Homo sapiens: one gene and its partners. The protein of the gene in region 4 purifies or fractionates together with the protein of the main gene of each other region. This does not show direct contact. Each region holds a gene or a part of one and is shown on either strand. Other genes may lie near its edges. The genes, in order: CEP135, OBI1, QRICH1 and WRAP73.

Region 1 (8,825 bases), on a different chromosome or scaffold from region 4:
CATTGTAACACTGTAGCACAACACAATACCTTTTCTATGTTTAGATATGTTCAGATATACAAATAGGCACCACTGTGTTAACAATTACCTACAGTATTCAGTATAGTAACATGCTATACAGGTTTGTAGCCTAGGAGCCATAGGATACAGACCATATAGCCTAGGTTTGTGGTAGGCGACACCATCTAGGTTTGTGTAAGCACACCCTATGATGTTGGTACAACGAAAAAATCACCTAATGATGACATGTTTCTCAGAACGTATCCCTGTCATGAAACTATCCATGACTGTATTTGAAGACCAGTGAAGCAGACATAGAACTTAAGGGGGGGAAAAAAAAAGAACTTAAGGGAAAAGTGTCTCTCAATTATATCAGAAACCCAAAAAACTGTAATTCCATTCACAGAGAAAACCCCCAGAAATGTTGACTTTGAACAGTACAGCGTGAGTGGTGGCCTTTAGAGTTCTGCCGTGTGGAAGGCCTGGATTGAGGACAGGGAAAAAACAGATAAGCTTCATGATTGAAAGCCTTTCCGGAAAGCTACCCTTTTCTTTACCAAAGCATGAAGTTCAATCAGAAATGAGGTAAGTGGTTAGGGATCATAAAGGTTGAAAACTGTATTTTTGTCTTTACCTGAAAAGTTTTTCTACCAAAGGTAAACACTCCACTGTCAGAGTCTGGCGGTATCCCAGCTGATCCAGCCTTTTCCTAATATTAATATACTTTCTCTCTACAGCTGTAGTCATCTCGTCTTCTAAAACAAGTTTTATTCACTTCCAAAAATTAAAGTCCTGAGAGAAAAGAATGAAACATCATTATCTTATTATAGCTATGATTGTTGTTTCACAATAAGAAGAAAAAATTATTTTAATATGAAGCAATTATTTTTTGTTTTTCTTCAGGTAGGTAGCCTTCTGGAAAATTCAGATTTAAAGCCAATGCTTATGATATTCCTGTTACTGCATTAAAATAAATACTTCCTCATACAACTAAATGTAAAAGTTAAAATCCTAAAGCTTCTAGGAGAAAACAAAGATTTTTCCTAAGCCTGAAGTAGGCAGAGACTTCTCAGAGAGGCCTCTTTTAAAAGCACTAAACATAAAAGATAAATTTGATAAATTGGACTTCATCAAAATTTAAAATGTCTGCTCATCAAAATACTCAATTAAAATAGAGAAGGCAAACCAAAGAGTGGGAGAAAATATTCACAATATCTGACAAAGGATTTGTATAGGGAATATAAAAGGAATTCTTACAACTCAATAATAAGACAAACATCCCAATAAGAACATTAATTTGGGCTAAAACTGTAATTTAGTTGCGCTAAAGATTCGAACAGACACCTCGCATAGGTGTCTGAATGGGAATGATGATATGAAATGGTGCTCAACAGTAGTCAACATGGAAATACAAATTAAAACAACAAGGTACATTTTCTCCCAAACTAGAATGACTAAAATTACAAGGACCGACAATAGCAAATGTCGACAAAGATCTGGAGCAACTGGAATCTTCACACATTGCTGACAGGAATGTAAAATCACTTTGGAAAAAGTCTGGCAGTTTTTTTATAAAGTTAAACATACTTCTGGACTATAACCCTGTGATTTTATTCCCAGGTATTTATAGAAATAAAAAATATTCACAAAAATACTCTACAAGAATGTTCACAGCTTTACTCATAGTAGCCCCAAACTGGAAACAACCTAAACCCCCATCAACAGCAGAAGGGGTAAAGTATGATATATTTATACAGTGCAATACTAAGGGATAAAAGGAACTACTGATACACATCAACAGCATGGATGAATCTCAAAAACATTATTTGAGCAAAAGAAACCAGACAAATACTGTATGACTCCATTTACATGAAGTTGATGAACAAGTAAAATTAAAACTATGGGGCCAGAAATTAAAACAAGAGTTGTCTGGGGAGGTGAGGCGGGCTGCAGATTGCCCGTTAAGAGTTAAGACACAACTTTTTAGGGTAATGAAAATATTACATTGATTGGGGTAGTGGTTACACAAGTGTATACATTTAGAGAATTTACTTTTCAAATAGTACACTTAAACTCTATGCATTTCATCATGTAAATTTCACTTCAATTAAAAAAAAAGACACACATAAGTACCTCTGTTCAAGTTTTTATCTTTGTCTTTTTAAATATTTATGAATATATTCCTATCAATCTGCCCTAAAATGGAGTTATCCAAAGAGCATTTCTTTTTTTTTTTTATTTTAATTGTTACCTTTTTTAGAGACAGGGTCTTGCTATGTGGCCCAGGCTGGTCTCCAACTCCTGAGCTCAAGGTATTCTCCCACCTCTACCTCCCAAAGTGCTAGGTTTACAGGTGTGAGCCAATATGCTCAGCCCAAAGATCATTTCTTTAGAAACTCTGCTCTTTTCTAACCTTTGCTAACTAACTGTAGTCATGGTACTCGTATTTCTAAGCCAAATAAAAATTTTGTTTTACATCTGTTGTTCTTCACAATATATAAAAAATGCATTACATGCATGAGCATACATGTAAAAGTCGATCCTCACAGCTACCCTGTGAGGGAGAAAGACCAATGATATTATCCCTACTTAAACATGAGGAAAGGCTGCCTCAAGAAAGTAACTCTTCCAAAACCACGGGGCCACAAAGTAGGTGGGCAGTCATCAGAGACCAGGTCTCCTGAGTCTCTCCTTGGTCACTCCTTTCTGTATATCTTTCTCTTTGCTCTTGTTAACTTTTTTTGAATGGCTTCCTCATAGATTTCCTAGGTTCTTTCCACAAGAGACACCTAAGTGATGCAGGGTTTTTAGGGAAATTCCTGCAGACATCAGAAATACACCTGACAAATCCAGGTGTATTACTAGCAGGGTGTAAACTTACAGGCGGTGCACCACTCAAAACATTTCCCCTCTTTGCTACCAACTCCAGTTACCCAGAGATAATACCTCCTCACATCCTGCTTTGGAGGGGAGAGAATGAGAATGAATATGAATCAATAAATCATGGCCAGGGCCTCAATACACAGGACGGATTAAAATCCTCCCAGATAGAAACATGTTAGGCCGTCCCCACCCATGAACTGTTGTCTTTCCCCATAACCCCCATCCAAATATGGTGGCTATACTCTAAGTTTCTAGCAAAGCAACATAAAAGGTTAGGTTTGGGGGTCCCCCATACATATATGTGTAGAAGTATCCATCTACTTAACTCTGGGGGTTGGCGTCTCAAAACCAGTACATTTAATGCTGTATGTATGTGTGCACAGGGCTTAAGAAGATAAACAAGAAACCCCAAACGACAACAAAGAAACCCGTTAGCTGTGGTTATCTCAGAGTCCTTTCTTATTGAACTCAAAGTAGTAAAGGCTGGAAAGCAGTGGAGAGGCTTCAAAGGAGCTGGGCAAAGGTTAATTAAAGGCTGTCGTCCTACGCTTTGCGACATTTTTGTTACAAAGAGCATGGATGACTGCTACACTGAGAAGGCATTTTAATGTTTAAATCTATCCATTGGTCAACAGCAAGCCTGTCTGCACGGCCCACACAGACGCTCCTTGACGAGTCGGCCCAAGCTCTCCTCCACCCAATCTCCGGTTTGCAACTTTACCGTCGGGTGTTGACGGGAAGGGGGTGTGGGAGCGGGGTGGGTGGGAAGAGTCCCCGCGCCCCTCCCCGCCCGGTCTGACCCGGCCTGGCCTCACTTCCTCCCGCGGCCGCGCGGCCTCCCGGCAGTGCCCGAGCCCGGCCCGCGGGTACCGCCCAGAAGGCGAAGGCGCCACCACCGCCGCAGCTGGCCCTCTGGCTCCCACATCCGGACTCACCGGCAGCTCCAGCCGCCGTTGCCTCCGCCTCCAGCCGCATTGCCCTCAGGCCTCGAGTCCCCCACTAGCTCCTTCCGTCCAGGCACGGGCTCCGGCGCTAGAGCAGTTTGAAAATGGCGCGGAGGGACGATCGGGGCCGACACGGAGGAGGCGCCGCGGTTGCCCCGGTAACGGGAGCGGCGGACGATTAGCGGCTCGCGGCGGGGACGCGCTTGGCGACGATGGCGGAGCCCCAGTGCCCGGAAATGCAACGGCCCGGACAGCGCGAGGCCACGGCGCCCCCTGGAGGTCGGCGCCCGCGGCCAGCAAATGCCAAACCTCAGCTGGTGCCTGAGCTGGCATCCTCTTCCTCCTGTCGGCGGGAGGTGTGGATCACCTACTGCGTGCGGGGAACAAACGCCGCCCCAGTACCGGTCCCTGCAGCGGAGTAGCCTTCACCTGCAAGGTGAACGCCTGCTCACCACGTAATCCCCAAACGCAGATATCACGTTGTCTCTGCAACTTTCCCTGACAACCACCCAATGCAATTAATTATCCCACAATAGTATCTCCCGCAGGCTCTCTGTAGAACCATAGAATTCATCCATCAAAATACAATCATTTGTTGATCCGTCTCTCTCTGCCGCCCCCAAATGTGAATTCCTTGAGTCAGAGACTATTCTACTCAGCAAAACATTTGTGAGTGGAATTAAATTGAAATAAACCGTTATAGTCCACTCACAGATGGAAAACACATAGTAAAATCCTAGAATTCCATTTCTCCCCTGAAAATTTCCCAGACAGTCAGAGGGAGTTTCATTCTTTCCTGTTTACTTTTCTCCCAAATAGGCCTTCTGAGGCAGCAGAATAGGGAAGGAAGTCAGAAGACTGACCAGCTCATACCTATGGAATGCCTATCATACATACACTTAAAATTATGGCAAGCTCACGCAGGCGCACTAAGAGAGAAAAAACAAGAAAACAGATATGACAATTATAGGAAATCCCCTCCCTAGAGTTAAAGAAGTGTAGGAAGTGGGTATAAAAGAACAAAGGCTATATTAATCCAGGGCTGACACCACTTGAAGATAAGCCCGTTCCTCTCTCTGGTATATTCTTTGCTTAATAAATCTTGTGGGGTGGTTATTTGTGTGTCTCATCCAATTCTTTGTTCATAACACCAAGAACCTGGAACTCCCAACTTCCAATCTGGTAACATATTTTGGTGAGCCAGCCAGGAGGTAAGCCCAGAAGAACTGGGACTTTTTATTTTCTTTCTTTTTTGCTTCAGCTCTTTCACTTTGGTTTAAAGCTGCCTTCTGCTGGCACGGATTGGGCAGTTAAGAACGAAAAAGGCACTGGCCGCTTGAAGACTCCCATTGTTGCGGGAAAGCAGAGGACCAGAAAGACCAATGGGTGGAGCAGGAGGATTTTATTAAGGTGTGCACTGGCTCCGTGGATTTGCATCCAAAAAGCTGAGCCCTGAACAAAGACAGAGCTTGGCTTATATAGGCTAAATTAAAAAAGCAGAACCAAGGCAGTAAATCACACAGTGACAGGTTTTGTAATCTATAGCATAACTGCTGAAATTTGCATAACTTTTGGCTTTGCTTAGCTGGTGGCCTTGCAGCTGCGTCAAAAGAAAAACAGGAACCTACAAATCTTTCTAAACATAGGCAAAAATAATCATAATTAATGGTCTAAGGAAAGAGAAACAGTAAAGGAATTTGTTTTTCTTAACCATTGCTCAGGGGTGTTTGGAGCTCATTCCTGGCTTCTTAGACTAGGTCACCATGACCTTCCTATAGCCTTGCTTGTTACTATCCTTAGAGTGAGTAAATGCAGTACAAAACTTTCTTTAAATTCCTGCCTCAACGTGACAGGATAACCTGATTGGGGAATGGAACAGATGGGTCCCACGGGGTACAAGATCAATCCCTGCAACAGTGAGGTGCATGTTTGTGTGGCTATAATTATTACATTATTTGCTGCTTGTTTTTTTGTTTTTGTTTTTGTTTTTGTTTTTGTTTTTGTTTTGAGATGGAGTCTTGCTCTGTCACCCAGGCTGGAGTGCAGTGGCATGATCTCGGCTCACTGCAACCTTCACCTCCCGGGATCAAGCAATTCTCCTGCCTCAGCCTCCTGAGTAGCTGGGATTACAGGCACCCACCACCATGCCCGGCTAATTTTTGTATTTTTAGTAGAGACAGAGTTTCACCATGTTGGCCAGGGTGGTCTCGAACTCCTGACCTCAGGTGATCCGCCCACCTCGGCCTCCCGAAGTCCTGGTATTACAGGCATGAGCCACCATGCCCAGCCAGCCACCGTGCCCAGCCTTGCTGCTTGTTTTATTTTTTTTTTCTTTTCTTCATTTGTGTTGGGATATCATGTTTTGACCAATTAGAGATCTCCCCCCAACCCAAAGGGCCAGGACAACAGGTAACTGACTGTGGGGAGCCCAAGGATTAGCATCAGCCTGAAGATTAGGGCCAACCACCTGGATAATGAGAGTACCCTGCTTCTTCTGTGAGGGATCAGATCTAGATTGTTTTAGTTTAGTACATCTGGTGCTAAAAGAAAACTCCTGGTGGAGACTCTCGGATCATTGCATAAATTGCACAGTGGATCCATGGGGAAATTACTGTGCCTGGTTTATCTCATATAGTCAGAGGGCACTCTACTATCTTATTGAGAGGCCAGTCTCTAATAACAAATTTAAACTAGGCAGTCTGCAATTCCTTGCCCTTCAAACTAGAGTTACTACAATAATTAAGGAAACCATTTGGGAAGAAACTCTTTTGGCCAGCTACAGGGATACTAGAAGCCAAAGGTTACACCCAGGAACTAAAGGGAAACTTATCATAGGTCACCAATTATGGCAGGATCCTTCTTCAAATGGCACTGGTGCCCACTATGGCTAGAGACGTCTGGCACTCAGAGGACAGGTCCATTTGGGGGATGCCCAAATGGACCAAAATTACAGTCCAGATCCTTCAATAGGGGACACCCTTAAGGGAGACTCTAGATGTAAACTCATGAACCTATGAGACTCCTTTCATGCGCGTCCATGTGAAGAGACCACCAAACAGGTTTTGTGTGAGCAATAAGGCTGTTTATTTCACCTGGGTGCAGGCAGGCTGAGTCTGAAAAGAGAGTCAGCGAAAGGAGATAGGGGTGGGGCAGTTTTATAGGATTTGGGTAGGTAAAGGAAAATTACAGTCAAAGGGGTTATTCTGTGGTGGGCAGGAGTGGGGGTCGCAAGGTGCTCAGTGGGGGAGCTTTTTGAGCCAGGATGAGCCAGGAAAAGGACTTTCACAAGGTAATGTCATCACTTAAGACAAGGACTGGCCATTTTCACTTCTTTTGTGGTGGAATGTCATCAGTTAAGGCGGGGCAGGGTATTTTCACTTCTTTTGTGATTCTTCAGTTACTTTGGGCCATCTGGGCATATATGTGCAAGTCACAGGGGATTCAATGGCTTGGCTTGGGCTCAGAGGCCTGACAACTCCCTTCTTCTTTTCCACAGATTAGTGTTGGGAAACATTCCTTCAGTCCTATCTGACTCCCCTCTTGGCTGCATCTTCAATCATTGGAATCAATTTGACCCTGAAAACCTGTGAAAGAAATGCCTAATATTTTATTGTAACACCTTTTGGCCTCAATTTCAGCTAGGGAGTCAAGAGCAATGGCCAGTCAATGGAAGTCTCAATTATGACACCATCCTCCAATTAGAACTATTTTGTAAGAGACAAGGCAAATGGTCAGAAATACCATATGTGCAAGCCTTCATGGCCCTATACCAAAAGCCTACCATTTTCAAAGCTCCCAGCACTTCTCCACAGAAAGAAACTCCTAAAACTGAGCCGAATACTGTAGATAACCCCCTCTTGCAAGGGGTACATATGTGTCAGGGTGAACAATAGCCACCTTCCTATAATCCAGGTCCAAGTGCACTTGAAGCTTCAAAAGAAGGACAAGAGTCACGGGTCCTAGCGATCCCTCCCCATACTAGCTTAGGAACACCATATTCAATGACACCACCTGTCCTGCTACCTCTCAGAGAGGTGGCAGGAACTGAGGGTCCCATCAGGGTACAGGTCTCCTTCTTAATAACTGATATCCAACAATGTAAGGAAAAACTGGGCAGTTACTCAGAAATTTGCTGTTGGGTTCCAGACTTTGACTTTGGCTTTCAACCTTTCTTGGAGAGACATGCAATTCATTTTGGCCACCTGTTGCACACCTCTGGAAAAGGAATGAATATTTGAGGCTGCTCGCCAGGACACTGATGAACATTTTGCATGTAGCCTGCAGGGCAACAGATCGGGAGCAGATACAGTCCCTACTACTGAACCCATTTGGAAATATAATACCCCCATGAGAATGAATAATCAAACTAAATTTCTTGAGGCACCCCTGAGGGGAATGAAAAAAGGTGTAACAAAGGGAGTAAACTATGATAAGTTTAAGGAGATTACTCAGGGGAAAGAAGAGAATCCAACCATGTTTTACAGTAGACTAGAAGAAGCCTTTAAAATATATACAAACTTAGATCCTGCTTCTCCTGAAGGCAAGATATTAATGGCACAACATTTCATTAGTCACTCTACCCCAGACATTAGACATAAGCTCCAGAAGCTGCAAAGGGGGCCATAGACAAAACCAGTTCCTTGACACCATCTTTATGGTGTACAACAATCATGAACTGGAGGAAGGAAAAGGGGAACAGAGTAAAAAAAAACCCAGCAAGCCAGAATTATGGCAGCCATCATTAGTGATGCCTTGAATGCCCAAAGAGCATCCAAGGGAAACACAAAGGGCTACAAAGATAACGCTAGCAAAGACTCTTGCTTCAAGTGCAAAAAAAGATAGGCATTGGGCAAAGGACCATACTAAGCCTGCACTGGGCCCTTGCCATCAATGTGAAGGCACCAGTCATGACCGTTGGCACTGGCCAGTTGACTGCCCCTGCTCCCACCGAGGGGCTTGGTCAGTCAAAACTCTGGCAGTGTAAAAGGAGGAGTTAGA
Region 2 (8,273 bases), on a different chromosome or scaffold from region 4:
AAATGACAACTGGGCTTAATGTGTACTATTCAAAAGTGTATGTATTCTATTAGCATGAATTTATTTGTAAAAATAGCATCACCATGTCCAATCATCCTGTTCATTCACCTTTAGACAATAATTAGGAAACAGCATGTTTCACACTAAAATCTCTGTGCTGGCAGTTGACATAAGGTATAGTATTTACTTTACTAGAATTGATCAGGCTTATAATCATCAGTAACTTCATAGGCAGAAGCAACTGATGACTGCAGAGGTCAGACTGGCTTTCACAAGGAGATTTCCTTTTTCTCCCAACTTCTTGAGGAAGCAAATACAAAATGATATGTCTGTGGAGGTACAAATTTTAACTTAAAAAAAAAAAAAAAAGAAAGAAATGCTTCCATCTGTTCCTTTTTTCTGGAATCCCATTCCCCCATTCCTTGGTACTTAAAGAAAAAAAATAAAACAAAAAATCTCTTTCCTCTATTTAAAATACGAAAGGAAAAAAGAAAAAAGAATTTATCAAACAATTTCTTTTTATAGGCTTTTAAAATAAAATTTCATTGGATATTTACTCTAAGAAGTCTGGGGACTGAGGTAGGTCAGTTTTTACCTTGAATTCACTGCTAACATAATTTTAAACTTTGATTACTGTTTACCTCATATTCTTTGTGTAGTAATTCAAGTCTAGTTTTCCGAAGATGCTTCCTGACCGTATGGCTTAGCATAGGTTCACTTTCACTTGTTCCTCCTGTAGGGAAAAAAAAAAAAATCCTAATTTTTCATTCTGATTCGGGAAGAATGAAAATGATCCTTTTTCATATTGTTTTATATAGCTTCCCAGCTTCACATCTACCCTTCCCCTTACATACACACTTGGGGCTTACATCTAGGCCTTTTCTCTACCCTAATCTTGAGGAAAAAAAAATATATCAAATAACACCATAAGAAATACCTTCAGTAACACATCATATTGTATTTACATATCTACATATCTTATCACAGCAAACTCAGTGGAGGAAAGGGCTGTAATTATCACATTTGGACTACTTCAAATTCTGAAAACTAGACTATATTTAAATAATAAAACCAATTATTACATTTACATTTAACCAAGAGATTATATAAAAATGTATTACTGGCTGGGTGCAGTGGCTCACGCCTGTAATCCCAGCACTTTGGGAGGCCGAGGCGGGCGGATCACGAGGCCAGGAGATAGAGACCATCCTGGCTACAGTGAAACCCTGTCTCTACTAAAAATGCAAACAAACAAAATTAGCCGGGCGTGGTGGCTGGCGCCTGTAGTCCCAGCTACTCAGGAGGCTAAGGCAGGAGAATGGCATGAACCCGGGAGGCGGAGCTTGCAGTGAGCCGAGATTGCGCCACTGCACTCCAGCCTGGGCGACAAAGCGAGACTCCGTCTCAAAAAAAAAAAAAGTATTACTGCTATATACCTATGTATATAGATTAATGTGTCTTTTCACGGATTCTAACAGGCTAGTTACAATGGACTGTAAGTCATGGCATTAACTCTATGTCATGACTTGTTACAAATGCACTCACAATGAATTCTTCCTGAGAGCTCTTCACTGATGCTCTGGTTACCTTCTTTGTATTTTTTAGCATTATAATAATAGCAAAGGTATTTTACAGGTGTTCTTTTTCAGGATGTTCTATCCAAATGCAAAAATGGATGAACTATTTTCCTTGAGAGAATTTATGAAATATCACTTAGGTATGAATGAATAAAGGTAGGATATGGGATGAGAAGAAAAGCTGGGGGAAAATATTCAAATCATCAAAGCTCATATTCTGCAAGAAAAGACTTGACTCCTTGGTGAAATTCAGCAGGTAAAAAAAAACAGATAGAGGTTAACCCCGTAGCATGCAACACAGCAGAGAACCAGTCCTCTACCAGACTTCACCCAGGTACCAAGAGCCAACTCTGATTGCGCCTTCAGATCTCTTATTTCCTAAGTCCTACTAGTTCTTCTTTTGCTCTGTAGCATATATATTCCTTTCTATTTCCTTTGTAAAAATCTTGGCTGGGCACGGTGGCTCACGCCTGTAATTCCCAGCACTTTGGGAGGCCAAGGCGGGCAGATCACCTGAGGTCGGGAGTTCGAGACCAGCCTGACCAACATGGAGAAACCCCGTCTCTAATAAAAATACAAAATTAGCCGGGCGTGGTGATGCATGCATATAATCCCAGCTACTTAGGAGGCTGAGGGAGGAGAATCGCTTGAACCCAGGAGGCAGAGGTTGCGGTGAGCCGAGAACGCGCCACTGCACTCCAGCCTGGGTAACAAGAGCGAAACTCTGTCTCAAAAAAAAAAAATCTTATTTAAGTCCATTTTCCCTAACTTGGGACTATTACAATGACTTCTTAAGTTTTCTGAAAAATGTTTTCTATACTTGGCTAATTGTAGATTCACTTTCAATTTTTCCTATAGCAAAAACAAGTAGAAATCATTTTAATTTTTGCAACCTAAAATAAATAACTTATATGAGTAGAATAAAAACCAAACTCTAAAAAGGCTCTTTAGAAGTTCTCCTTTTCAAGGATCCTCTAGTTCAAGCTTTACTCCTCCCCCACCCCACCAATATTAATGTGACATAGAATTTGTTTTCACCCTTAATCCAAACTTACATTTTCTATCACCTAGGCAAAAGCCTCCTACCAGACCTACTCACATCCTGTCTACTCCTATAGTCCAACCTATGTATTACCACAAGTAATATTTGTAAAGCACATTTTGGATCATACCACTCCCTTGCTCAAAACCATCATGCCCAATTCACCCTTCTTCTTAGTCCTAGAGCAAGTCCCTGATTTAGCTGTCATTCAAGGTTCTCTGCACTAAAGTCTCAATTTACCTTTTGTCTTATCTCAGTAGTCGGACCCAAAGTAGACTACTGATCATTTCTAAAAACATGCTCTGGGTTTTCCTGTATCTAAACTTTTTAGTTCATGCTATTCTCCCTGCAGGAAATGCCCTCCTTAATTTTCACCGTTGAAATGTTATCCATCCTTAAATTTAAATGTCCAGCTTAAAGGCCACCTACTTTATGAAGCCCTTCTCGGTGTTCTTAGCTGAAGTTTCTTGCCTGAACTCTCTGGGCTTTTTTGGGGCCCTTAGCACTTGCTGCTTTTCTTTTGGTTCAGTTGCTATGAAAATGTAAGTTCCGTGAGGCTCTCAGGGTTATTCCTCTTAGCACCTCTCAGTGCCTTGTGCCCCAGTTGCTCCACATATACATTACACAAATTACTCAACCACTCAGTATTATGTTGGCCAAATAGCATCACTGAAAATAGCCTATTTCAGTCTTCCTCGAAATATAAATTATTTGGAGATTGTTTCAAACCTATTCCTATGCATATATAAAACAGGCCCTTACCTATAATTTCTTTGCAAGGATTTTCAGGAGTGATGGGGACTCTGCAAGCTGGACACTGGCTATTATTCTTCAACCACAAATCAATACAAATCGAACAAAATACATGGTTGTTGATGCATATGACAGGCTGACGTACCTTTGAAAAAAGAAATCACTTTTAGTACAGGACAACGGTCATAATTAGAAGATCAAATGGTTTAGTTTACAGCAAACTGCTTCTCTAGATTATAGCAGAGTAGGAGTTTAAGAAGGGATATCTAGCGCTTTTAAAAACACTGCTTCTGTTGGTCACTTTTCTTTTTACACATGTTTAACAGAGATACTAGATGAGATACTGGATCATGGAGACTGAAGCTTTTGACATATAAAATGCTTTATTTTGTACCTAAACCACAGAATTCATGCCAAAAAGAAAATGCTTTTTGTTCCACTAAGGCTGGGACAATTTTGCTCAAACTCTTCTATTTTAGCATTATAGAACAGCAGGATTAGGTTTTTGAAAATATCATTTAGCACAATCATCCATCTGATGCCCGAATCCTTTTCTCAATTCATTCCACTGTTACAGAATAACAGCAACTATTAAATATTGTATTGATACTTTACTAGAAATTCCCCAAAACCAAACAGTAATGAAAGCTAAAACAACCCAAAAGGCATGAGCTTCACTCTCAAGTAGTTTATAATCTAAACAGCAAACAATGCAGACAGAATTACTGAGATACACCAAATACACAAATCTTTGACTCCAGGCTCCATTTAAACAAGCACAAATAATAATACCTTACATTTATAGCATTTTTTTTTGAGACGGAGTCTCGCTCTGTTACCCAGGCTGGAGTACAGTGGCACCATCTAGGCTCACTGCAACCTCTGCCTCCTGGGTTCAAGCAATTCTCCTGTCTCAGCCTCCCGAGTAGCTGGGACTACAGGCGCCTGCCACCACGCCAGCTCATTTTTCTATTTTTAGGAGAGACGGGGTTTCACCACATTGGTCAGGCTGGTCTCAAACTCTTGACCTCAGGTGATCTGCCCACCTCGGCCTCCCAAAGTGCTGGGATTACAGGCGTGAGCCACCGCGCCTGGCCTGTAGTCATATTTTACAAACGGCTTTCACATGCATCTTTCACCGCCCCAACCCTTTTCCATCTCTTTTTTTAAAAATACCACAACTTGGTGAGGTAAACTGGGTAAATATGCTTTACAAATAAGAAAACAAAGGCATGAAGAAATTAGGTAGCTTGCTCAGGGTTAACTGGGTGTGTTGACTGTTTGTAGTTGTTTTATCAGGAGGAAGAAAGAAAAGAGAAGCTGCTTTGGTTTTCTCCACAGCATTTATATTACCTGATATTATACTCGTGTTTACATATTTATTGTCTATCTCCCTTATCAGAATGGAAACTCCATGAGAGCAAGAACTTCTTTACTCTCATTCATAACTAAACCTTTAGTGCCTAGAAGATAGCTTGGTACTTAGCAGGTACTCAACAAAGGTCTGTTGAATGATTAACTGCTATTAAGATAGTGTTAACATTCAACTAGTTGGGAAAGTTGTCAGAAGGAAATAATGATTTAATATTTTTTGAAATAGCACAAATTTAAAAATACAAACAAAAACAGCACAGAAAAATGTAGTCTTATCACTTGATTTACATGGTCTCTTCACGGTGGGACTCAAAACATTTCATAGCCATTTTCAATATTTCCCTAATAGTAATTACAGTATAGAACCCTTCTGCACTAGGAACTGGAAGACTAGGTCAAGGGAAAGCAGAGTAAGTAGAGGGAGAATGAAGAGGCAGAACCACCACAAACCACTTTTCTCGGAGAAAATGCTTGTGCTACTCTATGTCTGCCTTAAAAGAATCTACTGAGTATTCATTAATTTAAAAGGGGCCCCCACCTCTCAAAGAATTAATAGATGCATAGCTATTCATGACTGTAGGGAAAAGAAAGAGAGATCAGACTGTTACTGTGTCTATGTAGAAAAGGAAGACATAAGAAACTCCATTTTGACCTGTACCCTGAACAATTGCTTTGCCCTGAGCTGTTAATCTGTAACTTTGCCCCAATCCTGTGCTCACAGAAACATGTGTTGCATGGAATCAAGATTTAAGGGATCTAGGGCTGTGCAGGATGTGCCTTGTTAATAAAATGTTTACAGGCAGTATGCTTGATAAAAGTCATCACTATTCTCCATTCTGGAGTAACCAGGGGCACAATGCACGGCGGAAAGCCGCAGGGACCTCTGCACAGGAAAGCCGGGTATTGTCCAAGGTTTCTCCCTATGTGATAGCCTGAGATATGGCCTCATGAGATGGAAAAGATCTGACCGTCCCCCAGCCTGACACCCGTGAACGGTCTGTGCTGAGGAGGATTAGTAAAAGGGGAAGGCCCCTTGCAGTTGAGATAAGAGGAAGGCCTGTCTCCTGCCTGCCCCGGGAATGGAATGTCTTGGTATAAAACCCTACTGTACATTTGTTCAGTTCTGAAATAGGAGAAAAACCGCCCTGTGGCGGGAGGCGAGACATGTTGGCAGCAATGCTGCTCTGTTACTCTTTACCCCAATGAGATGTTTGGGTGGAGAGAAGCATAAATCTGGCCTACGTGCACATCCGGGCACAGTACCTTCCCTTGAACTTATTTGTGACACAGATTCCTTTGCTCACATGTTTTCTTGCTGACCTTCTCCCCACTATCACCCTGCTCTCCTACTACATTCCTCTTGCTGAGATAGTAAAACAGTAATCAATAAATACTGAGGGAACTCAGAGACCAGTGCCGGTGCAGGTCCTCCATATGCTGAGCACCAGTCTCCTGGGCCCACTGTTCTTTATACTTTGTCTCTGTGTCTTATTTCTTTTCTCAGTCTCTCGTCCTACCTGATGAGAAATACCCACAGGTGTGGAGGGGCTGGCCCCCTTCAATGATGGGCAGGTAATCATTTGAGTCTCGTTACAAAGAGCTCTGGTCTCAGTCTGGCTTTCTGAACATTCTGGTTCTCCCTTGATTATGAACACTAACCCAAGAAAACTAAACAAAGATAATCTGGAATAGATTTAAACTTCTTGGAGAAACTTAATTCTAAGCATTCATTTCAACTGGTTTGACAGATTCATTAAAAAAAAAAATAATGAACCATAGTGTTTCAAAGTCTTCTTCCAAAGTGGTCCTACCAGCAGCCAGGAGTGAACGCTTATCTATAAAGTATTCCTGGTCAGAGTCTCAAATGGCAGACAAACCTGAACTTTCTTTGCAGGTTCTATTTTTTTTCTTAAAAATTCATGTGATTTGCAAGTCCAGACCATAATATATTCATATATGTTTTAATTTCATCTTTATGTCATGAAATCTTTTAAGAGCACAAAAATCCCAAACCAAGAAGATACTGCCTTATCTATCCTGTAACTTCCCCCAAACACACACACACACACACACACACACACACACAGACACACACACCCCTGCAATATTCCTAGAAGTACTATATGCCCCAAAATTAGGAAGCTCAGGTAAAAAAGGAAGTTATCTACTGTTATCTACTTTTATAGTAAGTTATTTTTTATAAGTTATAAACTCATCTGAAAATGGATAAAAGCCAATGCTCAAGACATAAAAGTGTGCACATTATATGAGAGGATTCAAGATGCTCTGCCAATCTTTCCATAAAAAAAAACACATTTAAAAGCAAAGCGTGCACATTATATGAGAGGATTCAAGATGCTCTGCCAATCTTTCCATAAAAAAAACACATTTAAAAGCAATCAGTAGGTCGGGCACGGTGGCTCACTCCTGTAATTCCAGCACTTTGGGAGGCCGAGGCGGGCTGATCACCTGAGGTCAGGAGTTTGAGACCAGCCTGGCCAACATGGAGAAACCCCATCTCTACTAAAAATACAAAATTAGCAGGTCTTAGTGGCGTGTGCCTGTAATCCCAGCTACTTGGGAGGCTGAGGCAGGAGAATCACTTGAACCCGGGAGGCAGAGGTTGCGGCGAGCTGAGATCGCACCATTGCACTCCAGCCTGGGCAACAAGAGCAAAATGCCATCTCAAAAAAAAAAAAAAAGAATCAGTATTTTTCATGTATTTGCTCCCACAACAAAGGTTAAATATTATCTCCCCAATCTATGAAATGGTTTTGAGCAACTCAGTAGTTGGTGTTATCATATACTGAAGTGGCAAAGACAAGAAAAGCAGATTTCGCACAAGGTAAAAATCAAGAATTCTGTTTTAGCCATGCTAAATTTGTGATGCTAAGCCCATTTTTAAGTGGACAAGTTCAACAAGGCAGGTTTTGAGTCACTGCCATAAAAGACATGAGCATATAAGGCCATAGGACTGGAGGAGATCTCATGAATGGACAAAACAGCTGGAGAAAAGAAGGCACTCCAGCAAGCAAAGGAAGAGGAAGAGCAACCAGCAGAGGAAACTGACAAGGAGGGGTCCTGTGATGTAGGAAAGGAGAATATGATATCACAGAAGTCAAGGCAAGAAAGTTTTTCAAGAGAGAGGCAGCGGCCAGATAAGTAAAATATTGATGTGAGATTGAGTTTGATGTGCACTGAGATGTGACTATGGGATTTAACTGCTTGGAAGTCACTCTGATCAGTTACCGACAAGCACTGTTTCAGCGAATGTTGGGGATGGAAACCTGACTGGAGGTTGAGAGACAATGAAAGATGAAGAAGTGAAGACAGAAAATACAGACAATTCTTTCATGTTTTGCTGTAAAGGAGAGAGCATAAAAATGAGACGACGGTTAGGAATACCAATGGGAATGATAAAGAGAGGATATTAGTGATGGATGAAGAGTGATGGGGGTATTACAGCGATAGGCAACAAAGTCCCTAAGAAGTCAAGAGGGGAAAGGGATCCAAAGCACAAAAGGAGA
Region 3 (8,273 bases), on a different chromosome or scaffold from region 4:
CTGCCTCGGCCTCCAGAGTGCTGGGATTATGTGTGAGCCACCGCGCCCAGCTCAAGCACATTCTTTGAACATGTGGTGACTCAGTTCTTGCCTTTCAAAATCAGAGTCCAAACTAAAAAAATGGAAAATCTTGGAATTTTAATATTTTTAGGGTATAAAGATCTCTTCAGAATCTGGCCGGGTATGGTGGCTCACGCCTGTAATCCCAGCACTTTGGGAGGCCAAGGCAGACGGATCACCTGAGGTCGGGAGTTTGAGACCAGCCTGGCCAACATGGTGAAACCCCGTCTCTACTAAAAATACAAAAATTAGCCGGGCATGATGGCAGACACCTGTAATCCCAGCTACTCGGGAGGCTGAGGCAGGAGAATGCCTTGAACCTGGGAGGCGGAGGTTGTGGTGAGCCAAGATCATGCCACTGCTCTCCAGCCTGGGTGGTAGAGCAAGACTTTGCTCAAAAAAAGAATTTTAAAAAGTTGGAAATATTTTAACATTATTCAAACATTCACTTTTTTATTTTTATTTTTTGAGCCAGAATCTTTCTGTGTCACCCAGGCTGGAGTGCAGTGGCACTGTCTCAGCTCACTGTAACCTCCGTCTCCTGGGTTCAAGTGATTCTTATGCTGCAGCCTCCCAAGTAGCTGAGATTACAGGCATGAGCCACTATGCCTGGCTAATTTTTCTATTTTTAGTAGAGATGGGGTTTCACCACTTTTTTTTTCTTTAAATGATGGCTCAACTGTGGCTGGACATTAAAATCACCTGGGAAGGCCAGGCACAGTGGCTCATGCCTGTAATCCCAGCACTTTGGGAGGCCAAGGCGGGCAGATCAGTCGAGGTCAGGAGTTCGATACCAGCCAGCAAGATGGTTCAATAACAGCCGTCTCTACGAAAACTACAAAAATTAGTTGGGCATGGTGGTGCATATCTGTAATCCTAGCTACTCGGGAGGCTGAGAAAGGAGAATCGTTTGAACCTGGGAGGTGAAGGTTGCAGTGAGCCGAGATCGTGCCACTGCACTCCAGCCTAGGCGAAAGAGCAAGACTCCATCTCAGAGGGAAAAAAAAAAAATCACATGGGAAGCTTTTAAAAATACTGACAATGTGCCTCTACCTTACAATGGCTGGAGATAAGGCCCAAGTGTGAGGTTTCTTTCTTTTTTTTTTTTTTTGGTTTTTTTTTTTGTGAACAGAGTCTCACTCTGTTACCCAGGCTGGAGTACAGTGGTGCGATCTCGGCTCACTGCAAGCTCCGCCTCCTGGATTCATGCCATTCTCCTGCCTCAGCCTCCTGAGTAGCTGGGACTACAGGCGCCCGCCACCACACCCGGCTGATTTTTTTGTATTTTAGTAGAGATGGGGTTTCACCGTGTTAGCCAGGATGGTCTCAGTCTCTTGACCTCGTGATCCACCCACCTCGGCCTCCCAAAGTGCTGGGACTACAGGTGTGAGCCACTGCACCCGGCCAGGGTGGGTTTTTTTTTTTTTTTTTTTTTAAAGCAATCCAGATGATTTCAAGGTGAGACCCAGTTTAAGAATCAGTGCTCTCGGCCGATGGCCCAAGCCTGTAGTCCCAGCACTTTGGGAGGCTGAGGAGGGCGGATCACCTGAAGATGGGAGTCAAGACCAGCCTGACCAACATGGAGAAACCCCATCTCTACTAAAAATACAAAATTAGCCGGGCGTGGTGGCACATGCCTGTAATCCTAGCTACTTGGGAGGCTGAGGCAGGAGAATAGCTTGAACCCGGGAGACAGAGGTTGAGGTGAGCCGAGATCCTGCCATTGCACTCCAGCATCCAAGAACAAGAGCGAAACTCTTTCCCCGCCAAAAAAAAAAAAAAGAAAGAAAGAAATGTTGTCTCAGTTCCTACCCTTTTCAATCAGAATATGCATTTTGATAAAATCCCCAAGTGATTTGTTTGCACATTAAAGACTGTGGGAGCAGTGCTTTGAGCCAGTAGTTCTCAGTGGTGACCAAACATTAGAATTACTTTTTTACTTGAGGAGTTTTTTTGTTTTGTTTTGTTTTTTCTTTTTTCTTTTTTCGAGACAGAGTCTCGCTCTATCACCAGGCTGGAGTGCAGTGGTGCAATCTTACTCAAGGAGTTTTTAAACAATTGATACCTTGGCTCCCCCTCAGAGAGATTCTGGGGTAAGTCTGGCTATTAGTGTTTTTAAATAAAAGATTTGACCGGGCACAGTGGTTCACGCCTGTAATCCCAGCACTTTGGGAGACTGAGGCGGGCAGATTACCTGAGGTTGGGAGTTCAAGACCAGCCTGACCAACATGGCGAAACTCCGTCTCGACTAAAATTATAAAATTAGCTGGCCGTGTTGGTGCATGCCTGTAAACCCAGGTACTCGGGAGGCTGAGACAGGAGACTCACTTGAACCCGGGAGGCGGAGGGTGCAGTGAGCTGAGATTGCGCCATTGCACTCCAGCCTGAGCAACAAGAGGAAAACTCCGTCTCAAAAAAAAAAAAAAAAAAAAACATTTAAAAGTGCAGCCAAGGCTGAGAAGCACTGCACTAGCCCAGTTGCAGTGCTGCTTTTGCTGTCCCTGGGGCAAGAGGTAGAACTCCAAAGCTTCTTAAAAGTAGGACAGCAATGAGTAGAGAAATATTTTCTTAAATAAATGAACTATACATAACATTTTTCTGGCAATTTTGCAGAAGGATCTAATATAAAACAATATTGACACATTTTCATGGTTTCTCTCCTATAGGCTCAAACTGTCCAGGTTGCTGAAGTTGAACCACAGTCACAGCCACAGCCTTCCCCAGAACTTCTGCTTCCAAATTCTTTGAAGCCAGAAGAAGGGCTTGAAGTATGGAAAAACTGGGCCCAGACCAAGAATGCTGAACTAGAGAAGGATGCTCAGAACAGATTGGCACCCATTGGGAGTGAGTGTCTTGGAAGAAGAGTGGGCTGTGTCTAAAATGCAATGGTACTAAAGTAACAGGAGGACAAAATGCCAGAAAAGTGGTGTCTCCTGTCTTGGGGACAAGAGAGCAACATCTGTAATAGTATGTTGAATTCAAGCCTAGTAACAAGCAGTACTGACCTTGTGTACATAATAAGCAGGATATGTGGGGTTTGCCCAAAACCAGGCATTTTTAGACATACGGGTTTCAGGAGTTGACCCTACCAGACCTAAGCAGAGTGGCTTCTGGGAGGAAATGGGAACCAGGGATAGGCACTCAAGCCCTTCTTTCTTGGCATTAGGCTCATATACTCATGTTATAGGCCAGTTCTGACATTACAGGCATGAAACATTCTAGTAGATACAAGTGAGCATTTCTATCCCAGCACCCTGATGGGCAGTATCTGTTCTGAGCCTTCCAGATATGGACCCCCAGGACCTTCATTCATTTTTGAGGCTTCCGTTGCAGGGCGCCAACTGCTGCGATTCCAGGAAGATCTCATCTCCTCTGCTGTGGCAGAGTTGAATTATGGGCTCTGTCTAATGACACGGGAAGCTCGAAATGGAGAAGGTGAACCCTATGACCCAGATGTGCTCTACTATATTTTCCTGTGTATTCAAAAGGTAGGAAACAGATCTTCACAAGAACATGTTTGAGCTGTGTTCCTATTGGATGTTTGCTAGTTTAGTTAATAAATTGATAAGCAAGAAGTTAAAATAAGGAAGTTCTCTTTCAGGTATACAGTGAGTTTTAAAATACACATTTGTTGTTTTTTTTTTTTTTTTAAGTTTTAAAAACCTACACGTTCACTTTAGAAAATAACAGCCGGGGCCGGGCGCTGGTGGCTCACGCCTGTAATCCCAGCGCTTTGGGAGGCCGAGGCAGGTGGATCACTTGAGGTCAGGAGTTGAAGACGACCAGCCCAGCCAACATGGTGAAACCCCATCCACTAAAAATAGAAAAATTTGCCAGGTGTGGTGGTGCACTGCCTATAATCCCTGCTATTTGGGAGGCTGAGGCATGAGAATCGCTTGAACCCGGGAGGTAGAGGTTGCAATGAGCTGAGATCACAGCATTTTACTCCAGTCTGGGTGACAGAGCGAGACTCTGTCTCAAAAATTAAAAAAAAAAGAAAAGAAAAGAAAAAAAATAAGAGCCAGGCAAGATGTCTCACACCTGTAATCCCAGCACTTTGGGAGGCTCAAGGCAGGAGGATCGCTTGAGCCCCAGGAGTTTGAGACCAGCCTAGGCAACATAGTGAAACCCCATCTCTACAAAAAATTAGCTGGGTATGGTAATGCATGCCTGTAGTCCCAGCTACTTGGGAGGCTGAGGTGGGAGGATTGCTTGAGCCCCAGAGGTTGGGGCTGTAGTGAGTCATGATTATGTCACTACACTCCAGCCTGGGTGACAGAGTGAGACCCTGTCTGAAAAACGAAAAGAAAAAAAATTAGCTGGGTGTGGTGGCACACACCTGTAGTCCCAGCTATTTGGGAGGCTGAGGCAGGAGGATCCCTTGAGCTCAGGAGTGCGAGGCTGCATTCAGCTATGATTGTGCCATCACACTTCAATCTGGTCTACAAAGCAAGACCTTGCCTCTTAAAAAATAAATACATAAAATAAATAATAAAATAGGAAAACAAACATTATTCATCCTACTACCTAAACTTCTATTACATTATTGGTAATTACCTTGACTTTTTTTTTTTTTTTTTTTTTTTGTAATTCACAAAGCATTTATGTAACACTTTTCTTTTTGTTAAACCTGATTTTCATGAAGGTAATTTATTCAAAACAGAGTCTTGTGCCAGCATAGAGGTTTTCTTCTCATTGTTCCCTGCACTAACTACTTATTTGAAGGAGTCTAGCTAGAATAATATACCAATGTAGTTAGGTTTTCAGGACATCTGTGGTGAAGCATAACAGAAATTTGCAGACTGGCAGTTCAAGGGAGCAGAGGTGGATTTCTTAGTGTTTGAAGGCTCTTGAGGAGAAACCCACAGTATAATAGAATAGGGCTTACTGGTTGGGACTTATTCTGTTGCCTAGTCTTGAGAAATGTCTGCCTCCTAGTTTTTTCCTCTCTTGGTGGTCCTAACCTAAGTACTATGTGAATTGCTTTACATGCTTTCATTCTTTGCTCTCCCAGTCCTGGAAGGCAGATACCATCATCTCCATTTACAGGCAAGGAAACTGAGTCTCAGAAATTAAAAGACTTGCACATGTTGTTTAACTTATACAATATCTAATGGAAGGCTGACCCCAGAGCCTATTCATGATTTTTGCTAACACAAAATAATGCCTTTCTTGGGTGAAATAGCATTCACAACATCTGCCTTATTTACCCAACTCTCAAGAATGTCATGAGAATCAGTCACATGAGCTTAGGCATACTATGGAAGTGTCACATGCTGGTGCCTTGGTTTGTTGAGGTGTGAATGGGTAGGGAAGGATAGTAGTACTGGTAGAAAAATATATTTATTTCCCCTGAAATCCTTGTTCAGGAGACTACCAATAACTTCTATTAATTGTTTTTCTTTTAGTATCTTTTTGAAAATGGAAGGGTAGATGACATTTTCTCCGATCTTTATTATGTTCGGTTCACGGAGTGGCTACATGAAGTTCTGAAGGATGTTCAGCCCCGGGTCACTCCACTTGGTAAGAGTCTCCCTTGTCCTTGGATATCTTTCCTACCTGGATTTAAGAAAGATCAATAGCTTCTGTGGTTGGCTATGAAAAGCATGTGAGTGAGGGGGGATATAAATCCCAGACTGCAGCAGCATTGGCCACTGTGCTACTTGCCCTGATAGGGAAGAGGCACTGCTCACCAGAGAAGCCTGCTGGTTCCAGTGTGGGAAGGACACAGGAACAAGCAGAACTAGTGGGGTAGTTACTATCTTTTTTTTCCTATTAAAATGTATTGATTAAAATTAGAATCATAACAATTAAGGATTATGGACAGTTTTATCTGTAGAGCATAATTTTTGCTTTACTCACAGGCAGCCTTCTGGACAGCATGTTCTATTGGAACAAAAGCATAGGTTATTCAGTGTTTTTCTTTGTTTGTTCTTAAAAAAACATGGTCTTGGTATGTTGCTGAGATGGGCCTCAAACTCCTGAACTCAAGCGATCCTCCTACCTCAGCCTCCTGAGTAGCTGGAGCTATAGGCATGCGCTACTGTGCTCAGCTATTTTTGTTTTGTTTTGTTTTGTTTGAAACGGAGTCTCACTCTATAGCCCAGGGTGGAGTGCAGTGGCACGATCTTGGCTCACTGCAGCCTCCGCCTCCCAGGTCCCAATTCAGGCAATTCTCCTACCTCAGCCTCCTGAGCAGCTGGGATTACAGGCATGTGCCATCATGCCCTGCTAATTTTTGTATTTTTAGTAGAGACAGGCTTTTGCCACATTGGCCAGGCTGGTCTCAAACTCCTGACTTTGTGATCTGCCCACCTCGGCCTCCCAAAGTGCTGGGATTACAGGCGTGAGCCACCACCGTGCCTGGCCTATTTTTGTTTTTAATAGACTTTTTTTTTTTTTTTTTTTTTTTTTTTGAGACAGAGTTTTGCTCTTGTTGCCCAGGCTGGAGTGCAATGGTGTGATCTTGGCTCACTGCAGCATCCACCTCCCAGATTCAAGTGATTCTCCTATCCCAGCCTCCCAAGTAGCTGGGATTACAGGAGCATGCCACCACGCCTGGCTAATTTTTGTATTTTTACTAGAGACAGGGTTTCATCATATTGGTCATGGTGGTCTCGAACTCCTGACCTCAGGTGATCCGCCCACCTCGGCCTCCCAAATGCTGGGATTACAGGCATGAGCCACCACGGCCAGCCAATAGACTTTATGTTTTAGAGTACTTTTAGGTTTCCAGAAAAATTTAGCAGTAAGTACAGAGAATTTCCATATAACTCCTTAAGTATATACCCTCACACACAGTTTCTCCTATCAATAACATGTTGCGTTAGTATGGTACATTTGTTATAATTGATAAACCAATATTGATACATTATTGTTAACTATAGTTCATAGTGCTATGAACTATATTATTGTGTTGTACGTTCTGGTTTACATTCTGTATCTGTTGTACATTCTGAGTTTTGATGAATGTATGATGACATGTGTCACCATCATGGTGTCATATAGAATGTTTACTGCCCTAAAAAATACCTCTTCTGGGCCAGGCATGGTGGCTCACACCTGTAATCCCAGCACTTTGGGAGGCAGAGATGGGCTGATCACTGAATATTGGGAGTTCAAGACCAGCCTGGCTAACATGGTGAAACCCCATCTCTACTAAAAATACAAAAATTAGCCAGGTGTGTTGGCAGGTACCTGTAATCCCAGCTACACGGGAGGCTGAGGTAGGAGAATCGCTTGAACCAGGGAGTCGGAGGTTGTGGTGAGCCAAGATTGCGCCACTGCATTCCAGCCTGGTGACAGAGCGCGACTCCGTCTCAAAAAAAAAAACAAACCTTTTCACCTGTTTATCCCTCCCTCCCCCAGATACCCTGAAAACCACTGATGTTTTTACTATCTTCACAGTTTTGCCTTTTCCAGAATGTCATATAGTTGGAATAATTCGGCATGTGGCCTTTTCAGATTTGTTCCTTTCATTTAGCAATATGCCTTTAAGATTCCTGTGTGTCTTTGGCTGGGTGCAGTGGTTCATGCCTATAATTCCAGCACTTTGGGAGGCCGAGGCATGTGGATCACAAGGTCGGGAGATCGAGACCATCCTGGCTAACACGGTGAAACCCCGTCTCTACTAAAAAATACAAAAAAATTAGCCGGTTGTGGTGGTGGGTGCCTGCAGTCCCAGCTACTCGGGAGGCTGAGGCAGGAGAATGGCATGAACCTGGGAGGCAGAGCTTGCAGTGAGCTGAGATCGTGCCACTGCACTCCAGCCTGGGCGACAAGAGCAAGAGTCTGCCCCGTGCCACCCCCGCCCCCCCGCCCAAAAAAAAAAAAAAACACAGTCTGGGCGCGGTGGCTCACGCCTGTAATCCCAGCACTTTGGGAGACCAAGGCAGGTGGATCACTTGAGACCAGGAGTCCGACACCAGCCTGGCCAACACATAAAACGTTGTCTCTACTAAAAATACAAAAAATTGGCTGGGAGCTGTGGTTCACACCTGTAATCCCAGATAATCCCAGAGCTTTGGGAGGCTGAGGCAGGTAGATCATGATATCAGGAGATCGAGACCATCCTGGCTAACACTGTGAAACCCCGTCTCTACTAAATACAAAAAATTAGCTGGACGTGGTGGCATGTGCCTGTAGTCCCAGCTACTCGGGAAGCTGAGGCAGGAGAATTGCTTGAACCAGGGAGGCAGAGGTTGCAGTGAGCT
Region 4 (4,107 bases):
GCTCTCGGGCACAGATGCCCCCACCTCGGGTCTGTGTCTGCTGCTCCCGGGGCCTCTGCTGTGTTGGTGCAAGTGTTCTCTGTATCCTCTTATCACGGAGGGAAGGCTGAGCCCACTCCCTTGCTGGATGATGGTGGCTGCAGTGGTCTCCCGTCTGTAATCACAGGGCACACATTTGCTGCCTGTGTCTCAAAGGGTGGGCTCCTCAGCAGGACACGAGAGAGGGTGGCTGGGTGATCTCAGCTCTCGGGACTGCGGGGTTCGTGCTTCCGTCTCTCCCGGTGGCAGCAGGACCAGCTGTCATGGCAGGCACACCTGTTGACCATGCGCTGTCATGGGCATTTGCCACGTCCATCCTTGGCTTCCGGGTCCCTGTCCTGAGCCGGGCGTGGCCACCTTGTGTCTTTCAGGTGGTGTATAAGGAGGCCGAGAAGAGCCCACAGCTGGGACTGGGCTGCCTCTCCTTCCCGCCGCCCCGGGCCGGGGCCGGCCCTCTCCCGAGCTCAGAGAGTAAATGTAAGTAGCACATGTGATGTCATTTGTTTTCCTTTTTTAATGCAAGATTCCTCGTTGTCCAGATAAACTTCGGATGTTCCTTATGTTTAAAAAAAAAAACTTTTTTTCCCTTCCATGCTTCCAGCCAGTGTGCCCCTCAGCCTGTTGGCTGGAGGTTGACTAGGGTCTGAATTGCGCAGTGGGCCGTGAAGGTGCGGCTTCTGTTACTGAATATGAGCCCTGGAGACCCGGATCTGACAGCGGGAGCTCCGAGGGGATGTTTTTCCGGAGCTCCGAGAATGATGTTTTTCAAAGAAACACTTTTCCGTGGGTGGCGCTCAGAGTGGGTCTGGAACCCGGCGGTGCTCCCGAGCGCTGTCTCCGGCTTGAGGCCCGGTTCTGATGCAGCCTCTTGACTCTGGGCATTTCCTATGTGTCTGTTTCCTCATCGCTGAAATGGGCATAGTAAAAGCACCCATCCCACAGGGGCATGAGGGCATCTGAAGGTTGCAGGTAGAGGAAGCGGTGCCCCAAGTGCCGACGGGCCCACCCCGGGGCTCGGTGTGTGCTCAGGATGGGGGTCAGGACAGGTGCAGCCTGGCACACAGGAGGCGCTCCCCAGGAGCCCAGGGGCGTCCTTGTTCCACAGCCCCTGCTTCTGCTGTGATGATGGTTCTTCCACAGCCGGAAAGTCTAAGGGTACTGACGCTGAGGTGGAAGGGATTGTGAACTCAGATGCTGGTAGTCGACAGAAAAGTGCTGAGGAGTTGGAGCTGCTGAGATTGCAGCTAGGACCTGTCCATGTCCCTCTCCAGTCAGCCCCTGGCACGTGGGGTCCACCCCCCACCTAGTCGGGCCTGGCAGGTGATGGTGCCACTCTCATCCGGGGCACTTGCGGGCAGGCCCCTCGCTGCGGCTGCCAGGCTTTGCTTAGCTCTTCCTGCCCTTGGGCCGCACTTTCCTCCCCTTTGAACAGAGGAGCTGGGTTCGCGATGCCCGATGCAGGCACAGCAGCCTCTCAGCCGCGTGCGTACTTCCCGAAAGGGTGACAATGGCGTGTTCTTCCTGTTGGTGTTCTAGATGAGATCGCCTCTGTCCCAGTCTCCTTACAGACACTGAAACCTGTTACCGACAGAGCAAACCCGAAAATCGGCATAGGAATGCTGGCATTTAGTCCTGACAGCTACTTCCTGGCGACAAGGAACGGTCAGTTGTGCTGACGCAGGTGCTGTCTCACCCTTTACTGTGTCCTGTGGCCCCAGGTGTAGAAGCGACTGGAAAAGAAAATGAAGTTGGGGGTTTCCGACACGTCACCTCCTTTCACGTTTCTGCAGTAGCCGAGGTGCTCACAGAAGCTCCTTGGAGGCGCTGGGCCTTTGTCCTGCAGCAGCCGCAGGTCCGCGCATGAGTCAGGAGGCCTCCACCCTGCTCACTTGCTCCACTCTGCTGAGTAGAAAGCAGGGCTGGGCACACTGCAGCCCGCCTTTTGTTAAGGGTTTCTCCATTTGTAAAGGGCTAAAAAAAAAAAAAAAATACCAAAGAAAGAAACACATTTGGGCCCCTTACAGCCCGTGATGGCCACCCTGGCCCTGGCCAGGAGCCCTACAGGGCCCAACTGAACCCAGACTGCAGGGTGCAGCCGCCCCACCCCACCGGTTCTTCCCCTCCCCTCCTGTGGTGTCAACAGCAGAGCAGAGGGGCAGGGCCAACACAGAGGAGCCAGGCAGGGATGACACCGGTGCCCTGTCCTTCCTTCCTCAGACAACATTCCCAATGCCGTCTGGGTCTGGGACATTCAGAAGCTGAGGCTGTTCGCGGTGCTCGAGCAGCTGTCCCCAGTGCGCGCATTTCAGTGGGACCCGCAGCAGCCGCGGCTGGCCATCTGCACGGGAGGCAGCAGGCTCTACCTGTGGTCCCCAGCGGGCTGCATGTCGGTGCAGGTGCCTGGGGAAGGTAAGCACATCCCCGAGGCCACGGACGTGGCAGCCTTGCTGTGTGCAGTCTGGCATCACACGGGCTGAACTGTTGAAGCCCAGCTGCTGTCTCCGGCAGCACTCCAGGGAAACTGCCCTCAGAGTCTTTGCGTAAACCTCAAGACGGACACACAGGGGACCCGCTGCCCTCAGCTTTATGGGCTAGAAGCAGCCTCTCCCTGACTTGAGGCAGCTCTGGGGCTCCACCCTGGCTCTGCCTATGTGGGTCACTCCAGGCACTGTGCTGGCCTGCAGGACAAGGGGGTGCCCATCCCCCAGAATCTGGGCCTCCCCTGCTGTAATCCTCTGGCCACCTGTCTCTCTCTAGGCGACTTTGCAGTGCTCTCTCTGTGCTGGCATTTAAGCGGAGACTCGATGGCCCTCCTCAGCAAGGATCACTTCTGCCTCTGCTTCCTGGAGACAGAGGCAGTGGTCGGCACAGCCTGCAGACAGCTGGGCGGCCACACGTAGCAGCGGTGCACTAACGTGTGCAGAAACAGGGCTACTCTGTGTTTCCAGTGTGGGAAAAAACACAGCTTCACCAGGAGGTTCTCCACTGTGGTGGTCTGGATTCAGTGATTGATTCTATTTTTCTATAGCAAAGCATTTTTGTAAATATGTATGGTATAAAACTGTAGTTTTATTATTTAAAATAAATACTTGCTGATTTATACAACTACTTCTCTTCTTGAAACGTTTAGTCACAGGCAGGTTTTCTAGGTTCGAGGTTCTGGTCAGTCTTAGGGAAGATGGATAGCCCTACAGTAACTGAGCCCCGGGCCACTAGCTCCCGCCAGACACCCGGCCTGCTCTGGGTTCTCTGTTTGGATGTGTTAGGACAACGAGGGGGCATCTCTGTGGGGCACATCCAGCCTCCCCACAGTGGGTCTGAAGTGTGGGCAGGGAGCCCTGGCACCTGAGAGCAGCGCCACCCCCAGGTCCAGTCCCCTCGGGATGGGAGCTGCAGGTCCCCGACCAGCTGAGTCAGTTCCTCAGGAAGTCTCATGTCTACTCTGGTTTCGGAACCAGTGTGCGTGGGTCTCCACCCTGGCTATTTGCAGGAAGTGCCTAGAACCACCCAGAACCATTCCATCAATCTCTCCAGCTGGTGCTCGGCAGGCAGCCAGACTTGGTTGGCACCACAGGTGGGGGGATCAGGGTTGCAAACCTAGGTTGTTGCATATCGTGATCTCTTTCTGCAGAGAACCATACTCGGCACTGCTGTGACAGGCAGTCCGCATGGTACAGGCAGAACAGGCCCACAGGTGCAGAGCCGGCAGAGATGGGGCAGGCTTTCAAAGAGGGAAGAGACACTTTCTTGGTTGTTGCACCTACTTTAATGACAACTTCAAAAAAGGAACAACATCCATCCACTTCTTAATGTCTTTATGAACACAGAGGCTAGAGTCCCCAGCCAGCTTCTGAGGCAGCCCTGCACATCCTGCAGGTGGCCACACTCAACCCATGCCACACCGTTTGCTTAAAGCTACAAGTCCTAGAGCTGAAGAACTGGCAAGCCAGTGCGTGAAGCTTATCGACAGCGCTTCCAGCCACACGAGCAAGCTGCGCAGATACAGGGAGGTGCGTGGGTCCCTGTGGGGAAATCCTCCAGGCACATCGAAGCCCGGGCATGTTTAGT

Evidence for each region.
Region 1: the proteins of WRAP73 (region 4) and CEP135 purify together in Homo sapiens (co-immunoprecipitation; 8 studies listed by BioGRID and IntAct, with this or other methods). This does not show direct contact.
Region 2: the proteins of WRAP73 (region 4) and OBI1 purify together in Homo sapiens (affinity purification with mass spectrometry; 5 studies listed by BioGRID and IntAct, with this or other methods). This does not show direct contact.
Region 3: the proteins of WRAP73 (region 4) and QRICH1 purify together in Homo sapiens (affinity purification with mass spectrometry; 4 studies listed by BioGRID and IntAct, with this or other methods). This does not show direct contact.

Annotation. Positions count from the first base shown.
Region 1 is NC_000004.12:55,944,053-55,952,877, reverse strand, and holds the start of CEP135 (centrosomal protein of 135 kDa), read right to left. Parts: upstream 3,934-8,825; 5' UTR 3,819-3,933; intron 793-3,818; 5' UTR 748-792; coding exon 635-747; intron 488-634; exon of another isoform or gene 407-487; intron 1-406. UniProt on the Homo sapiens protein: Centrosomal microtubule-binding protein involved in centriole biogenesis. Acts as a scaffolding protein during early centriole biogenesis.
Region 2 is NC_000013.11:78,641,481-78,649,753, forward strand, and holds part of OBI1 (ORC ubiquitin ligase 1), read right to left. Parts: intron 3,518-8,273; coding exon 3,382-3,517; intron 2,073-3,381; exon of another isoform or gene 1,546-2,072; intron 734-1,545; coding exon 642-733; intron 1-641. UniProt on the Homo sapiens protein: E3 ubiquitin ligase essential for DNA replication origin activation during S phase.
Region 3 is NC_000003.12:49,041,700-49,049,972, reverse strand, and holds part of QRICH1 (transcriptional regulator QRICH1), read left to right. Parts: intron 1-2,726; coding exon 2,727-2,904; intron 2,905-3,393; coding exon 3,394-3,548; intron 3,549-5,468; coding exon 5,469-5,583; intron 5,584-8,273. UniProt on the Homo sapiens protein: Transcriptional regulator that acts as a mediator of the integrated stress response (ISR) through transcriptional control of protein homeostasis under conditions of ER stress.
Region 4 is NC_000001.11:3,629,807-3,633,913, reverse strand, and holds the end of WRAP73 (WD repeat-containing protein WRAP73), read left to right. Parts: intron 1-410; coding exon 411-516; intron 517-1,575; coding exon 1,576-1,701; intron 1,702-1,757; coding exon of another isoform or gene 1,758-1,891; intron 1,892-2,256; coding exon 2,257-2,448; exon of another isoform or gene 2,449-2,796; coding exon 2,797-2,939; 3' UTR 2,940-3,144; downstream 3,145-4,107.